2 separate regions of the Homo sapiens genome follow, and region 1 is linked to region 2. Evidence: fine-mapped expression QTL. A gene starts in region 2. The other region holds a variant in brackets. All regions are shown on one strand. Distances are between the middles of the regions. Region 1 overlaps DPH5-DT (DPH5 divergent transcript). Region 2 holds the start of DPH5-DT (DPH5 divergent transcript).

Evidence for each region. PIP is the estimated chance that this variant, and not a neighbour inherited with it, causes the effect.
Region 1: its variant is fine-mapped to the expression of DPH5-DT in whole blood (INTERVAL, PIP above 0.99).

Annotation. Positions count from the first base shown.
Region 1 is chr1:101,070,614-101,079,788 of GRCh38, reverse strand. DPH5-DT (DPH5 divergent transcript) reads right to left here. Exons shown (of 5, transcript NR_109849.1): 2 at 4,073-4,394; 3 at 2,281-2,426. Among named protein-coding and RNA genes, the nearest start is that of DPH5-DT, 49 kb to the right of the region's middle. The variant G/T (reference allele first, on the strand shown) is at 4,784.
Region 2 is chr1:101,021,708-101,030,882 of GRCh38, reverse strand. It overlaps DPH5-DT (DPH5 divergent transcript), which reads right to left and starts at 5,037. Exons shown (of 5, transcript NR_109849.1): 1 at 4,822-5,037. DPH5 (diphthamide biosynthesis 5) reads left to right here and starts at 5,099. Exons shown (of 8, transcript NM_015958.3): 1 at 5,099-5,200; 2 at 5,417-5,574; 3 at 9,118-9,175. The coding sequence starts at 5,440. RefSeq lists a silencer at 3,317-3,376 and enhancers at 5,168-5,277, 4,370-5,569.

The DNA of each region.
Region 1 (9,175 bases), 49 kb before region 2:
CACTCCTATCCTTCATTTTGCTTCTATCAGCTCTCAGTTTTCCCTCCTTCTCCATTGCGCCTCCAGTCTTAGTCTACATGACATTTAAGCCAAAAGTCATTCATAACATTTGTTTGTTTGTTTGTTTGTTCTTGAGAGACTCCTGGTGGCTTAGTTTGCCCTCTAATAGATTGCTATGGTAACACTTGTTTCCGTTTGTCTACCACTCTCCCTGCATCCTCTTAACTCCAAATTCTGATTTAAAAAAAAAAAAAAAGGAACCACCTGTTTCCTGAGCACAGAATTAGATTATTGAATCAAGCTGGCTTACACAGATCCTTCGAATTTGAGTCTTAAGTGGAGGTGCCTTGGGGTGCTCTGGGTCAAAGAGTTCATGAGTTCTCAATGCTCGAGTCCTCAGAATTGTCCTGGTTTCTAACCTCCTGAAGCTTGCTTGTTCAGTGATACCTTTCTGTGAGCTACTCTAATAATTCTCGTGTTTAAGATGGTCTCTGTTGCATACGCACCTTTCTGCTTTTTGCAACCAAAAAAGAAAAAAAACCTATGTGGCTGTGTGGCTGAGTTCCCTTGGGGGAATTTAATCAGCCATCAGCTTTGGTCAACTAGGGGCTTACACAAGACAAATTAATCTGGAGGAGATGTTAAGGGTGGTAAGTAATTTGATATATCCATAACAGGGGAAAATGGTAGTTATAAGAAAAGAATCAGACTTGTGTCTACATCTACTACAGTCTTAGCAGAATATAACAAACCCCATTTAATTAAATTCCATTTAAGTCAATAGGCATTACAATTAGGCATTCACTAGATAAGCACTTGGGGGATATTTAGACGGATAAGGCTAAAATTTTGCTCTCAAGTAATGGCTAGTCTGGGGGAAGACTACATGTACACATATAAGTATAATACAAGGCAAAATATGCTGACTACTGTGATAAGATCAAATAAAAACACTTTGGGAGGCCGAAGCGGGCGGATCACGAGGTTAGGAGATTGAGACCATCCTGGCTAACACGGTGAAACCCCGTCTCTACTAAAAATACAAAAAATTAGCCAGGCGTGGTGGCGGGCGCCTGTAGTCCCAGCTACTCGGGAGGCTGAGGCAGGAGAATGGCGTGAACCCGGGAGGCGGAGCTTGCAGTGAGCCGAGATGGTGCCACTGCACTCCAGCCTGGGCAACAGAGCGAGACTCTGTCTCAAAAAAATAAATAAATAAATAAATAAATAAATAAATAAATAAATAAAAACATAGAGGAAAGAACAATTAATTTGGGTTATAGCATTAGCCAAACAGGTCAGCCTGCTGAAAGATTCAAATAGCATGTTGCAAGCCACCAATACAAAGGAGAGAAGAAGCCCTTTTAAAGAGCTGTGGCATTTTGAGATCTTGAGTAACATACAAATGGAAAAAGACTCCTCAGGTTTGTAGGCACTTGAGAAATATTGCTTTCTCACTTCTTACCTCATTTAAGTACAGGTCTAAGTAAAGGTCTGTAGAGGCAAAAATCCTTTCTTACCAATAAGTGAGTCCTTCCCTAACCCTAGTCTTGGGCTGGTAGGAAGTATCCCTATTCAGTGTCCCATTTCCTCACCAAGAGTGTTTTCCATTCCTGAGTTAGTTCAACAAGGGTAAAATCTGGATTAATGGCCCCCACGTCTTTGAAGTCAAGAAATGTACATTATTTTTTCCCAGATCTTAAATCTGGTGACTCAGCACAAATTCTAGCCTTGCATGTATCCCTCAACCAGACCGAGTATCCATTGCATGAACAATGACCCACGGACACCAGTGTAACCCCTGCCTCCTCACCTCCTGCACTGGCCCTGCAGAACTGAGATTCTGCCTTTTACGTAGCCTTTTTGCCTGAGAACAAGTTAGCCTAATTCTTGGCAGTCTTCTCTCTGGTTATGGCAGTGGAGTCTCTACCATGTGTTTTAAACCCTAGTTCAACAAGCAATTCTGTTAGAACCCGACTAATATCCTCCTTACAATGGAGCAGGTGTTGGCAAACTTCTTTAAAGAGCCAGATAGTGTATATTCTAGGCTTTGAGGGCCAGAAGGTTTCTGTCACAAGTATTCTGGCATTTTAAGTCCTAAAGCAGCCATAGACCACATTTAAATGAATGGGTGGAGCAGTAGTCTAATAAAACTTCACTTATAAAAAGAGGCAATGATTTGGCCCTTGAGTATAGTTTGAAGACCCCCTGCTTTTCAGCATCACTGTTCATGCATTCAGAATTCCTTATTCCCATGACCCATCTGTTTGCGAGAAAGCTCACCTTAATCTTTCCCAATCCTCCTTTATTTGCAAAGGTGTAGGCTTGCCCATCTCAGTTACAATATTCAAGACGTCCATGTACCTTACTTCAGTTCCTGGTATACTCCAGAGCCCACATGAACATTTATGCATACCCTATCATTCCATCTAGAGCCAAAGTAAAAAAAGAGAAGCGAGAAGTAGTGGTATGTATATAGTTATTAGCAGTTTGAGGGAAAAGAAAACAAAACAAAACCAAACAAAAACAGAAAATAGCCTAAAAGAAGTAACTGTTGCTTCTGGAACAAGAGAAAAGGAGAAAAGTTATAAGACAACAATCTGTTATATTCTGCAGGGAGCAGAGATACCTTGGCCAAAAGTAAAGAAAATTGTTTGGGTAACTCTCTAGACAATGGGAAGAAAACTGAGGCTCATAAAAGTTAAATGAGAGTTCCACATAGGCCTGTTAAGGAATTCCTGCTAATTATATTCATCTTGAAGCAAAGGTAGAAGATGTATCGCAATATCCCAAATTGGAAATCTAAATATATTTTCTGAATAAAGTTGTTAAATAGAGCGATTTTTTAAAATGTAGTAGTAGGTTTAATAGGAATCTGTAAGTGGCACAAAACACAATAATAACTGCTATTTAGTTAAGTGACAGTGTAGTGGACATTTTTTTCTGATTTTACCATCTAACATTCACTCCCCTTTCTTTTGGTAACACTATCAACAATTTTCTTTGGACAACCGTGCTTCCTGTGCCTTCGGTCCCCCTGCTTTGGATTGAGCTGAAACTATCCGATTTCAGGGACAGGCATGTGATCTAGGTTTGGATAATCAAAATATTGAACCCCCCTGGATCTACAGTTGTTTTAGGAACAGAAACATGCAAGTTTGTCTCATCAAAGTGAGGCCAAGACTTCTATAGGTATTTCAGGGAGAGTTGCTCTTTTTTATGTTATATTAGAAAATGGCAAGATGTAAGTTTAGAGTTGCTAAAGGATGACATTAGGAAATAACTCCTTTGACAGTTAAAGCAAGTATTAAGAAAAATAGGCTGTAGAAATGCAGATACCAAGTCCTGAGAATACTGTTTGAACCCTTAATATTTTAGTAATGAGTTAATTTTTTTAGCCAATTTTCTTTTATAATTCCTTTCCTCCTTCCATTATTCTTTCCTTCCATCCCTCCCTTCTTTCCTTCCCTTTTATCCCTGCAACTGAGAGTTGTAAAAGAAAGTAAAATAATACAGCTTATTTTATGTAAGTATATATAGCTTTCCTTTAACTCACAAAACAATCCTATGGGTGGGTATAATTACTCGGTCAACTGAGGAATTGCATAGTATGCCGCTGGTCATGCTATGCATAGTATGCAATTCCTCAGTTGACTTCAAAGTTATGATTCAACCTCAGGCCAGTATGACTCAAAGCAGGTGATCCTCACTATACCTCCTGCCCTCAGGTAAAAAGTCTTCTAAGGGAACTAAGCTTTTAGGTCTCAACAATTCAAATCTGCTTCTAATTTAGGGGCCATCTCTATACTAGGGGCCTAATGTGATGATAATAGATCAACTTTGGCCAGTGATGTGAAAATAAATGTACTTTTGAAAATGCAGTGACTCCTTGACAGGTGCCCTTTAGAATACTGGTGAATGGCTGTTGTAGAAAAGTCATTTCTGAAAGCTATTTTTATGAGGCAAACTGCATTTTCCACTTTTATCCCACACCTAATGTCAGGGATATGTTCTAAGAGAATACTTTTATTCTCATTCATTCTGCAACAAACATTTAGAGATATTTAGAGCTTACCAGGCATTGGAGAAATGTACTGGGCTGCCTAGAACAACAATTTGGACCAACGTTTGCATGTTCCCATCCCAGAAACACTTGTAGGTCCAGGGTGGTTCAATATTTTGATTGTCCAAACCTGGATCATCTACCTATCCCTGGAATCAGGGATGGTTTCAGTTCAATCCGAAGGACAGGAAGGCCATCTTAGATTGATAAGCCATCTTATGTTCCCAGTATCTGTCTGAAATAATTATATCCTGAGAGCTCTCGTAGTGTGAAGCTTTCTTCTACATGTAAAATTTCACAGGGAACCATGTTTTTCAAACAAAGGCATAAGAACCTGAAAGACAGTACAGAATAGTGATTAACAGGGCTGGCACTGGAGTTCAAGTCTCATCTCTTCTCAGCTGCATGACCTTGAGAGAGTTATTTAACGTCTCTGCGCTTCATTTTCCTTGTCTGTAAAAAAGGAATGATAATAATAGTACCGTTATTGTTAGTTGCCCATCCTCCCCTAAGTTTCTCAACTAAATGAACTACTGACTTGCTATCTAGTTTTTAATTTGAATATTAATAGATTATATTCACTTATATTGTGAATAAGTGAACGTTTCACTTATTTCTCTTATCTCTGTCACAATCTTTTACACACACACATGCAAATATGCTACATAAATTAGCTCTAAAAATGAGCAACTTGTAATACATGCCCAGCACTGTAATGTAAGT[G/T]AAATGATATTTTATTAGGGAGCAACCAATGATTTTTATCATATAAAATAAACAAGGAAATTTATCAAGATAGTTTTCATCATAAAATATATTTTTAAATATCTTTCTTCCCAAATTTTCTATTAAATTTGACCTAGCCATATGACTTACATAAATTATATTAGCAAAACTGAAGCCAATTATCTGAAATCATTTAAAGTATGGCTATTTCAGAACAATAATATGAGTATCATTTAAACAATGTTATAGTGTGTACACACATATCTGTCTTTCTATGTACCTTAGGGGTGGGAGGACAGACTGAGGCAATAGGAAAATCTCTCAAGTTAGTTTAGAAGTCAGAGAAATTTCCCTTTACCCTTTTCATCAGAATAAATTAGAACAGATCATTGGAATCTGTTTCAAACAAATAACAACTTTCCTAGTGTTTTTGGAATGCAAAGACTAAAATGTCTAAATTGTCACACAGAAAACCATACAACTCAGATTCCTAACACAGTTTTATGAATGAAGAGCTGAATCACTTTGTTATGTACAAAGGACTAGATAAATGCCACAGAAATGCTATAATCCTGGGGATTAATTCTTTTATTACTATTTAACTAAGTTGTCCTAGTGATTTACCAGTTCAAATGTGATATTAAATGCTATATTGTATGTTGCTCCATACTTGATTTTAAATGAATCAAATGCTTAATTACAGTATTTGGAATTTTTTGTTATTTTTAAAGGATTTTTAAAGTTTTTATGTACTTGATAGTAAGCTGAACACTTACGTTAGCTTCAGTTACACGATTGTAAGATTTTTTATTGTACAATTATTCTTTTAGAATTGAAATTTATACCAACTTTTGCATGTCTCCTTCCCTTAAACAATTGTAGGTCCAGGGAAGGAGGGTTCAATATTTTTATTGTCCAAACCTAGATCACATACACACCCCTGAAATCAGAGTACAGACAGCTGATGTTCAGTGTAGACAGCTGTCTAAACAATAAGAACTCTATGTATCAGGACAGGTGCTGTTATTATCCTCCAAATCTACAATACAAGTGTTGATTTATAAAAGATTTGGAGGGATAAGGCTTAAACATTAAAACAACAAGCAAATATCCCAGTAAAACAAAGCTGCAAATTTCAATCTATTCCTTACACAAGAGTCAACTATTCAATGAAAAATTTCAAGAAAAGTATAGGGGTTTTCCACTGCTTTGAAAGTATTTTGATAACACATAATAATATCCAACTTTGGAAATTTATCACAGCTATCTAAGAAGCTCAAGGTACCACTTCAAAGAATTATCAAGAATCACCTAGCATATTTCCAAAACCTGAAAAATCAACTTAGTTTACAAATTGTTAGACTATGAGTTTCTTCAAGACATGGACCACCTTTCTCCTCATGGTTTGCTGCTACCTTGCACAAATTAGGCACTGAGTATATGAAGGAGCATGGCAGACTGAAGTCCTACACCTACCAGAAGAAAGGCCACACACCCTTGTAGTCACATAGCTCCATCCTATTGGCCAAAAATCAATGGCCAGATGATCAAAAGCAGTGGTTCCCAACTGGGGATGATTTTACCCCCCAGGGATATTTGGCAATGTCTAGAGTCATTTTTGGATGTCAGAGATGTGCAGGGATGCTGTCATCTAGTAGGTAGAGGCCAGGGATACTGCCAAACATCCTACAGCACACAGGACAGCCCGCACAACAAAGAATTATCTGGCTGGAAATGTCAGCAGAGCTGAGGTTCAGAAACGCTGATCTAAGAGTTAATTGAATATTTGGCTGGGCACAGTGGCTTACGCCCGTAATCCCAGCACTTTGGTAGGCCAAGGCAGGTGGATCACTTGAGGTTAGCAGTTTGAGACCAGACTGGCCAACATGGTAAAACCCCATCTCTATTAAAAATACAAAAATTAGCTAGGCATGGTGGTACATGCCTGTAGTCCCACCTACTCAGGATGCTGAGGCATGAGAATCACTTGAACACAGGAGGCAGAGGTTGCAGTGAGCCGAGATCATGCCACTGCACTCCAGCCTGGGCGACAGAGTGGGACTCCATCTCAAAAATAAATAAATAAATAAAATAAAATAAAAATAAAATAAAAGTTAATTGAATATTCATGACGGCATCAGACAGTCATCCATAGCGGAACACGCTAAAATATACCTTGTTTAAGTTAAAAAAATTTCATTGCAAGATTCAGTACTCATCTTCCAAAACAGAAAAGCTGCTGGAATGAAAATGTGGAAGTAGAATGAAAAGCCTTCCATTTTCTCTCAACGAACACAATTTTTCATACATCTTCATGTTTATCACCACATGTGATATATTCAGGAACTGTGGAAGAACAGAAGTGATAATGATATGCTGATACATAAGGAGTCTCATGTCACCTAGAAAGTAGACTGACATTTGTTAATGAGACATTTAAAGAGGTCAAATATGGAAGGGCTAGATTTGTATTCAATATCTGGCATAAGAACAGTGAAACAGGAAAGGTAAAGGTAATAATGGTAAAGCAGGTAGTTAACATCTTTTATGTCCTCTCAGTCTGCCAGATACAATGCTACAACACCTTATGTGTATACTCATTTAAATGGTAAGATCTATCAATCTCAGAAGTTAAGTGTTTCAGAAAGAATATGATTTGATCATTTCTATAAAAATTGTACTATAACTTCCATTTTACAAGTCTCACTCCTCCACTAGACTGGGACCTTCTGGAACCTGCCCTCCAGAAGGTCCCAGTCTAGTGGAGTGGGACTCGTAAAACAGACTGAAAAAGTAGAAGTCCTAATGATGTCTTATTTATCATTAGGACTCATTCATCATTAGGACTCGTACTATACCACCAAATAGGCTTTTCATTAGAGATTAAGAGAATAAGAGTAACACTGTGCAACAAAACAAAAATCTAGGGGAAACCATCTAAAGTCCTCCAAATTCTAAGGAGAAGAGAGGTTATCATAAGTCTAGTCTGTGAGTTCTTCCATGAGCAAGATACTTCATTATCTCTGTATTCACAGTTACTAGTGAAGAGTCTAACACAGAGTAGACACTTAATAAGAATATTTTAAATTGAACTTGAGACTGTAAATATTTTCAAGTGTTTCCAAGAAAGGGAAATGTGATCCTCTCCTTTACATGGATCTTGACTCAGCAAATACAGTTACTTCTTTTTCTCATGTGTACTTGTTTACAACTCTTATGTGGTTCCTGCCATTTACTGTTCAGCTCTGATAACAACAATGAATGGCACTCAGACAAGGTCAAAGGGAGGCAACATTTTGCTTGAGCGATTTCTTCATTCAGCTATATATGTCAGTGTGGATGCAGAGTGGGTTACATAAGTAATGACAAATACTCCTTTCTTAATTCTAACACAGAGATCTACAGCTGCCCCATTAGATTGCTGCCTTATCTGGGGAGCTATCCTGTGGTGCTGCAGTGGATACTGTGGAAAAAGGAGGAAGCAAAGAAGTGGAAACAAGACAGATGTGCCAAGGCAGAAACTACACTCTAATTTTGAGTATATTATTTAGATACCACCATCAATCTATCCTCCTGATGTTTTATCAACGAAGACAAGACTTACATCTCTTCCCTTTTTTAGCCACTCAAAAAAGATCTCACTAAACTTCAAACTCAAGCATATTGGCATAATAACAGCAACTATTAAGAATTTGCTTCCTATTTTTTGACTTAGAAAAGATGTTTTCTTCATTATCTCCATGAACTAATATTTATGAAGTACTCTCATGTATTGTACATGCATATCTATCATATACTACTCTGAGAAAGTTAGAGAAGTTCCTGCCCTGTGGGGGTTTTTGTGTGTATTGTAGGGAATGAAGGAGAGTTAAAAAAAAAAAAAGGCCATATTCTCTCCCTCTCAAATGTCTTAATCAAAAATATTATAACCGGGCACAGTGGCAAGCGCCTGTAGTCCCAGCTACTTGGGAGGCTGAGGCTGGAGGATCGTTTGAGCCCAGGAGTTCAAGGCCAGCCTGGGCATCAGAGTGAGACCCTGTCTCTAAAATATTATATATACATCATATAGTCATATATATATATATATATAACTGTAACTTGACAATATCATAGATCTGACCAGACCAAATGATAAATATATACCTCAGAATATGGAGTGGGTGAGTAAACATAAAATATCACTTTCACAGTTCTTTTAACACAAATGATTTATAAATTTATTGATTCTAAGATGACAAAAAAAGTGTCCCTTAGATAAGCTCTGGTCACCTAGGGTCAGTTTCCAACAACAGATTCCTTCTCAGTATACTACCCAATGGTGAGAAGACCCCAAAGTGGACAGCCGGAGAGCTGCAACACATGCAAAACACTTGCAACCCTTCTTGTTTTCTT
Region 2 (9,175 bases):
TTTGTTTTTGTTTTTGTTTTTTATTTGAGACGGAGTCTCGCTTTGTTGCCCAGGCTGGAGTGCAGTGGCACGATCTTGGCTCACTGCAAGCTCCGCCTCCCAGGTTCAGGCCATTCTCCTGCCTCAGCCTCCCAAGTAGCTGGGACTACAGGTGCCCGCCACCACGCCCGGCTAATTTTTTTGTATTTTTAGTAGAGACGGGGTTTCACCGTGTTAGCCAGGATGGTCTGGATCTCCTGACCTCGTGATCCACCCGCCTCAGCCTCCCAAAGTGCTGGGATTACAGGCGTAAGCCACCGTGCCTGGCCTGTAGTTTTTTTAAATGCAAAAAGAGTGAATTATGTATCCCTGATTCTACCTTTTTAGCAATAGACTTTGGAGGAAGGACCTGCCATATACGAAAATGGGTTAGAAACAAACAGAAAGTTTACACATACATGCACATACACACAGGCACTTAAGGGAACATTCTGGGAGCTCCTTTACACAAAAACGCAGGGCTCTAGGTGACTTCTTTACGACAGTCCATATTGTTACTGATTCAATCTATTAAGCTAGGATGAATGACAATAAAAATTTCCACACTTTACACAGAAAATAGCTCTAGATTTGTTTTTTATGCATTTTTACATCATATGATTAACATATAATGTATGGATGAGTACTTAAAATCACTGGGTTTATAAAAAGTGACTTTTTCTCTAAGTAAACAAGTGTACAATAAAGTAACTTCAAATCTTTTAACCTTAGTAAATACAGGTCCTTATCCTAAAGCAATGTTATCTTTAATTATCACTTATTTGTGAATTGTTAGAAAATAATGACTTCAATCAATTAAGAGTCTGAGCTCTACAAATATTAACCAAGATTTCCTCTAACAAAGGCAATTTCTGGGAACATGTAGGTTAAAAGGCCAGCTTCATAGTAAAATAATATTCTTCATTCACAGTAAGGTCAGATGGAGTTTAGTCAGTCACCCTGATGTCTTCTTTTCAATACACAAACTGCTTAAACAGGACAATTGAAGGATGACTTCTCTTAAATGTAAGGTAATTATAATTTGTCCGTAAGGTAATGCAGTGACTCAACTATGTTATTACTTCAGAATAAAAGTAGCATATGATGTGTCTATGACAATGAAATGGAAAAGCCATCAGTATTAATTTCTTATGACTATCTGCATCTCTCTCACATTTTATGACTACTGACTGTAGGTCTCAAATATAAGGAAGAATTTGCCAGTAAAAATGAGTTACTGGCAAAGGTTATAAAAACATCTTAAAGATCCTTCATAAAAGCATAAATGTTCACCCTCAGGGATGACTTGGCATCATCTGACCTGAAAGCAAGAATACAAAGTAGAAAACTCTTCAGGTCTAATCTATCCATGTTATTCTTGAAGCCAAAAAAGGCTAAAAATCTTTCTTTTTTTCTTTTGTCCTATAATCACCTTTCTCTTTAACCATCACTCTCTCTTCTGCTAGACATGAGACTACAAATTTGCTGACATAAAAGAATTTGTCCTCTAACTGCTTTCATTATCATTATAAAACTATAATATTTGTTAAAAACTAATTTGAAATCGTTTTACAGCAAAATTTTCAAAATCCAGCCTAAATTAGGTGAAGCAATGATATCATTTAATCAGCTATATGCCTAGGTATGTTTTGTTAATCTATTACCTAGGTGAGGAGTTTATGTTTCAAGCAAAATGTAATATGTGTATTGATGGCTGCAACTTCCCTGGAAATGCATCAACAAATAAGATGGGTTGACATCTGGGTAAAAGGATAAATAAGTGATAAAGCAAAAACAGCAAAATGTTAAAACTTTAGAACCTTGGAGGTGGCTATATGGGTGTTGACTGTGACACTGTTTCAACTTTTCTATATGTTTGAAATTTTTCACAATAAATTGTTGGGGAAAATGTAATCACATTTGAAACCTGTTTTAAATGGCAAGGGAAAAATGTCCAAATCCCACAGAATTCTGCAAAATCCAATAGGCAAGATTTTTGCAGCTTATGTTTGTTGAGCTGAGGAGGAAAAACAAAAAAGATTACCATAATCCCTTTATCTGTCTACCTCCAGAAAAGTACAAAAAATTTACACTCTTATTGAGAAATAACGGCAGGTGAAAGGTTTGTTTGTTAAGAATTCTCCGTGGTAAAACTAAGTTCCTCTGGCTACATTTTGAAGCTTAAAAACAAATTATTACTGTTATTTCAGGCAATGTTTCACTTCCTTGATTACCCAGAATAACTTTATTTTCAATATAGATATATTTCCTGAAAGGAGATAAACCACACCTTCTTCAGATTACTTAATCATCCTTTTTGGCAGTGTCCTTGCACTGTGAATCTACCTGAAATTATTATTTTTTTAAATCTGAAAACAAAAAACATAAATGATCAACACATTGGAAAATGTGTTTACCTACTCAATAGCATGCATATGAACTATATGTTTTGTGTGTTGCAAGCCTTTCAATACAAATGACCTTCTAAAGTGGCATGAGACAGGCATATTTATATTTGATATTCCATTAATGATTTTTTTGGTAGTTTTTTAAAACATACCACCCTCTGTATTAATAAAGATGGAAAAATACGTAGCTCAGCTACTAGTGGATAATAATGATTTATTCAACAAACATTTATTTAATACCTATTATGTGCAAGGGATAGTGCTAAACCTAAGATGAGCATACAAATAAGATGCAGTCCCTGAATTAACTAAATCAATAGTTTGGTAAAGAAGAAATACAAATGAACAAATATAAAATCTCATAAATTGGTTAGTAAGTATATGTAGAGTAATACTGTAATGAAGAGGAGAAACCTAAATTAGCTTAGGGGGGTGAGGGTCTCTGGGAAGGCTTCCTGAACTTGGTCTTAAAGAATGGGTATTAGTGATCTAGGCAGGAGAGAATGGGAGACAATATTCTATGATGAGGCAGCAGCGTAGAGGAACAAAGCAGCATGTTGTGGGCAGAGAACTACAAGCAATTCAGTATTGCTGGAGAGAAAGCGAGAAAGCTCATGGTATGGAGTGGAGAGAGATGATGCTAAAAAGGTAGGCAGTGGCCACACCACGAATGATCTTGTGGGGTATGTTAACAAACCTGGACTTTCTCTTGGCCTCAGAAGGATCTAGAAGGGGTGTAATATTTTCAGATTGTTAACTATAACTCTCTGACCCCCTTGAGTGAAGGAGACATTATTATCAGCTACAAGAGTGACAAAATGAGGACCTGAGAATCAAGATGGTGATAGACGGTATGGTTTCTATTGAGATATACAGGCAGACATGACAGACGATGTGGGGGTGACTCCCAAGTGTCTGGCTGGGGTTAATCTGTTGATGACAATACTCTCCTCACCCACCCCCACCCCCGACCCATCCAAGTAGATAATATGGAAAGAAAAGCAAAATGGAAAGGGAAGGTGATGGATTCAACCTTGGATGTGTTGAATATGCTTCCGGGTTATCTAGGTGAAGATTTCCAGCAGAACGTTAACATGAAGCCAAGAGGGAGGAAGTCTGGATAGGAGGCTGAAATTTGAATCTACAAAATATTAGCGATACTAGGAATTCTGAGTGAACAGCCAGTTTTTGTGAGGTTTTGTTTGTTTTACTTAAGCCATTCTAATAGGTGGGTTGTGGTAGCTCATTGTGATTTAAATGTTTATTTTCCTAATGTCTAATGATGTTTAGGATCTTTTTTTGTTTGTTTAAGATCTTTTAAAATAATTATTTGCTATTTGTGTATCTTCTTTGGTGTCTATTCAAATCTTTTGCCCATTTTTAAACAACGAACTGTTTTATTATTGCTTTCTGAGTGCTCCTTATATATTCTCCATACAAGTCCTTCATCAGATACATGCTTTGTAAATATTTTCAGTATGTGGCTTCAAGTCTTTTGAAGAGCATAAATTTTTACTTTGTTGAAGTCCAATTTATCAATTTTTTTCATCACGCTTTTGGTTTAAGAAATATTTGCCTAAATAAGGTCACGAATATTTCCTCCTATGTTTTCTTCTGGTATAGGTTTAGGTTTTCCATTTACATCTACGATCCATTTTGAGTTTTTTGGGGTGTGTATGTGGTGTGAGGAATAGATCAACGTAATGAGAGGGGATAAAACACAGCCACGAAGAGTTTATAGATAGGAAGTGCAAAAAGGTGGATGGAACCTGGGAATGAAAAAAAGCCAAGGTTCAAGGAAGCGGAGTTGGGCATTGTCGGGGAGGCAACAGGAAAATTCTGAGTAACCAACACTGCCTGCTAAGAAAAGCAATGACAGCTGTCTTTTTTAACTTGGATGAGGTCACCTTGGGAAGAGCATTTTCAGTCAAAACAAATCTTCCCTATTTCTAATTACATGTAACCAACAGCTTTATAAGAATTCCCCCGGCAGAAACACTTGAGAGGTCTGAAATCCCTGAGCACTATTAAAGGTCACTTCTTTAGGTACAGGAAGGTCTGGGATTCCTGACACTGAGGGTGACTGAAACATCCTTGGGGCACTCCAGGCATAAGGTCTTGGGGACAAACCCAAGGAGTCATTGCCTTGTTGGGAAATCAGAAGCACACTCACTGCTGGGTTTGCCAATCTCACGCTTCACCAGGAAGACACCTAGTTGAACTACAGGAGGATGAGAAGACTGGAATTAAAATCTGTGCACTCGGCCAAATCCGGGGACAAATCAGGAAAATCCTTCCCAGCCCTCCCTGTTTCTGGAGAGGAGGAGTAGGGCGCAGGGCCCCTCCCGACTCTCTTCCACGTGGCTCCTCTCGAGCGAAGAGCTACTGCACTTACCCAGGCTTAGGAAGCGGGTGTTTAAGCCATGGGTTAGAGGGCTCGTGAGCACGCCCGATCCTTTCCCTGAGGCTATGAAACGGTGGCTCCACGGACTCCTCTCGGCCGACTGACCTTTCGCCGCCCTGCCCCAGCAGCCGGCGGGTTTCTTCAGTGGAGCCGGGCTCTGGTCTCCGCAGCCCAGTAGCCCGCTAGCCCGGCCCCCTCCCGCTAGTCGTAAAGTGCAGTAAAGGCACCAGCATTTTGCGGCACCGTAGGTGAGGCCGGCGGCGTGGGCCTTTTCTCTGCACGGAGCCGGCGCTTTTGCAGTTGCTTCTGCGGAAAGGTGGTAGTTAAGAATTTGTAAAGGCCAGAGAACTACCTACGATTCTCTCAGCGGGTAATTGGCTGCTCCTAGGTTTGTGTAACAAGAGGCAAAACTGGTAGGGTTGTTTAAAACCTCTTATCCCAGTTCTTAAGCGTGACATAAGGTTCCCAAACCCCTCCTTGTGACTTGCCTCTTCTCTTGTGCTACTTTGGTTGTCATCGTGTTCATCACTAGATTTTAGATGTCCTCGGTGTTACTGACGGTTTTTCTGTCCACTTCGTCTTGCAGTCTCTCTTCTCCTCAAGTTTGAAATGCTTTATCTCATCGGGTTGGGCCTGGGAGATGCCAAGGACATCACAGTCAAGGGCCTGGAAGTTGTTAGACGCTGCAGTCGAGTGTATCTGGAAGCCTACACCTCAGTCCTAACTGTAGGGAAGGAAGCCTTGGTAGGTGCTGAGCGTTCCCCAGCCTCCTGGGAAGAAAGCTATCTAACATCTGATTTTCATACACTAAGCTGAACAGAATTTTCAGGTCTGCTTGTTTAAACCCTTTGAAACGCATCCCTTGTTCATTAATGATCTGAGGAGCAGAAGAATGGAAATTTTACACCAACCAAGTGACTTGGAAAATGAAAGGGTGCTTTGTCCTATTTTACAAGTCTAATTTTGTGGCTTTCTCCAGTAAATAGGAAAGCTATTTTATACTCCTGGGGGATAGTTATCAAAACCCCTTATTTCATGAGGTAGTCAAGAAACCCTTTCTGAGTTGAGTGCTAATGAGGAGCTGACACAGCCTTAATGAGTTGGTTATATATATTCAAAAACCAAGCTGAAAGCTTCCCCCTTTGAAGTGTGTCCATAGGGAATGGCGATTGCCTTTTTGTATCCTATCCAGAGAGATCTTATCTTAAATAGACTATCTCCCAATAAGGCTTATACTGATACACTTGTATATATTGAGTGAGCCTGGACTTAATATATAAAAATGTATGAGTATACACTTACATGAGTATACACTAAGTAACCAAAGTATTTGTTAGTATATTATACATTTATAGTTGGCCCTCATAAGGGCCCAGTAAATTTGGGGGAAGGGTCAACTTCAGGTTCATTGTCAAACTCTAAGTAGAATGTAAATCAAAGGATTAATACATATGTTATGGGAGGAGGGAGCAGATTTATTGTCATGTCTTCCAAACAAAAAATAGACTTAAAATTTTTAGGCCTCAGATTACTTTAAAATCTTATAGAAGGAATTAAGAACTGCTACTTGAATTGGCCATGCATTTAAATAAAAGTTGTGTGTAAAGACCAACTTTGATATATACATATATGTGGAGAGAGAGAGAAAATAAGTCTTGCTCTGTTGCCCAGGCTGGGGTGCAATGGTATGATCATGGCTCACTGCAGCCTCAGCCTCCTGGGCTCAAGTATCCTCCCACCTCAACCTCTCGAGTAGCTGAGACTACAGGTGGGTGCCATCATGCCCAGCTAATTTTTTGTATTTTTTGTAGAGACAGGGTTTTGCCACATTGCCCAGGCTGGTCACAAGTTCCTGGACTCTAGTGATCTGCCCACCTCGGCCTCCTAAAGTGCTGGGATTGTATAGGCACAAGCAACCACACCCAGCCTAAGGCCAGCTTTGATTTAAAAAACATTTTTTTTTCTCATTTTTTCACTCTTAGGATAGAACCAAAATATCTAAGCTCGAAATGATGGAAATGTGCGTCTCTAATCAGTGATTAAGGAAAAGTAAAAGGAACTTAACACCTTCAAGAAAAGACAGACAAATAACAAAACAGCAGTTTGATAGAATGAGATATCAGGGGATGGCATAGAGGAAAGTTTGGTTATAGTTTTATCTTTGTTACATGTTAATGTGACCTTGGACAAGTCCTTTAACTTTAGTGTCTTTTTTAAATGGGGTAAAAAACATCTACTTTAGGTGTTCAGCATAATTCTTAGCATAGGTTCTTAACTATGGTATATGGCACAAAACTGTTCAGAAATAGAAATTGTCAATGTTCACATTTCCAAACTTCTCTGAACCTCAGTTTCTTCATTTGTCAAGTGGCAATTACCAGTTGGAGGGTTATGTAGTGTTTTATTGAGATGATGTATATGAAAGTGCTTTGTAAATTTTCAGTGCTAGCTAAATGTTAATTTTGGCTGCTGTTATTTTGTAAAGTATTTTTTTCCAAAGACAAAACTTCTGGAGTTACTACTTACAGAGTCAAGACCTGAAGCTGGACCCAGCCTTACCTACAGTAAATTATGTGTACTTTGTTAAGGTGCTGGAATATCTGTTTCTTCACAGTAATAAGTACTGACATTTATAGAACAGTTACAGAACAGTTACTGTGCACTGTTTTAAATGCTTTACATGTAGATTAGGATTATTATTCTAATTACTGTTCATTTTGCAGGGATAGAGAAGTTAACAAACTTGCCTAAGTTCATGCAGATAGTGAATGATAGAGCCAGGAGATGAACCAAAGCAGTCCTGAGTTGAAGTCTGCCACTCTTTTTATTATTATTATTATTTATTATGTTTTTTTATTTTGAGACGGAGTCTTGCTATGTTGCCTAGGCTGGAATGCAGTGGTGCGATCTCGGCCCCCTGCAACCTCTGCCTCTCGGGTTCAAGCAATTCTTCTGTCACAGCCTTCTGAGTAGCTGGGATTACAGGCGTGTGCCATTGCGCCCGGCTAATTTTTGTATTTTTAGTAGGATGAGATTTCACCATGTTGGCCAGGCTGGTCTCGAACTCCTGACCTCAGGTGATCCACCTGCCTCGGCCTCCAAAGTGCTGTGATTACAGGTGAGAGCCACTGCGCCCGGCCGAGGTCTACCACTCTTGACCTCTACACTGTACTGTGTCTCTGTATTCTTAAGGATAGATAATAGCTACACAAAGTTTAACTTCACAGAACACCTACAGAGAAGGTAGGATTCAAGCAAAATGGTCAATGCTGGATCCTGCCCTGCTTAATAATTTGTTCATGTACTCATTTGTTTGACAGATATTATTGAGTACCAGATACCGTTGCACTACAGCAATCCTTATAAATTTTAATAACTCACTCAAAGTTCTCAGTATGTAAGAAACCGTATTATTTATCTATGCATCCAGTTTTACTCCATTTGAATTACTTATTACTTCTCAGGAAATCAGTTTTAAGATTCATGATCCTTCATTCTGTACTGGCTGACGAGATGAAAAAAAAGAAAAGGATTCATGATCTTGCATAATAGCCCGTAACCACTATCAGATGACTACTAGCTTACTAGCTCACTCTCTACTGGATTTGTTCTCTAGAGTTGAGCTGCAGGGAATTAAATCACAAAGCAGTTTGTTTGCAAACTTCCTACATATTTAGAATTCAGTTACTGCTCCTGCAACTCTGCCTTTTTAGCAGAAACTAAGGAATATAGTTTTAAATTAGTATCTTCTGCATTTATGTAGGAATGTTCACTGGTTCTGTAAACAGCTAATTTTCTATTGTTTCTCATTGGTGCTGCCTTTTTTTTCTAGCTGAGTTGCCATATGTTTAACCATTGAAAATTTAATAAAAGCTAAACCACCATGTTTGTTTAAACTTATTGTTTAATATATTTATTCTGTATTACATCATGTTTCTGAAGTAGGGCTCATGTGTACATATTCCGCATTCATCCTACAGTGTTCTATTTGGCCTTTAGAACCAAATTTAGAAATAAATTTAAAATGCAAAAAGCCTCAGATGTTAAGAGTTCCGCCTCCTTTGGGATATTAAGACAGCCCCAAATACAGAGTTTAATTGCAACATGACATAAAGTACTGGCTTACTGATGAGTTGTATTGAATGATCTGCATTTGGGTGGTTGCCAACATATGCACCAGTCCCAAACAAAGAGTGTGTGTGTGTGTGTGTGTGTGTGTGTGTGTGTGTGTGTGTTAGAATGGTCACCTGCTGTCTCTTTATCTTGATATTGGACTTATATCTGTAGGAAGAGTTTTATGGAAGAAAATTGGTTGTTGCTGATAGAGAAGAAGTGGAACAAGAAG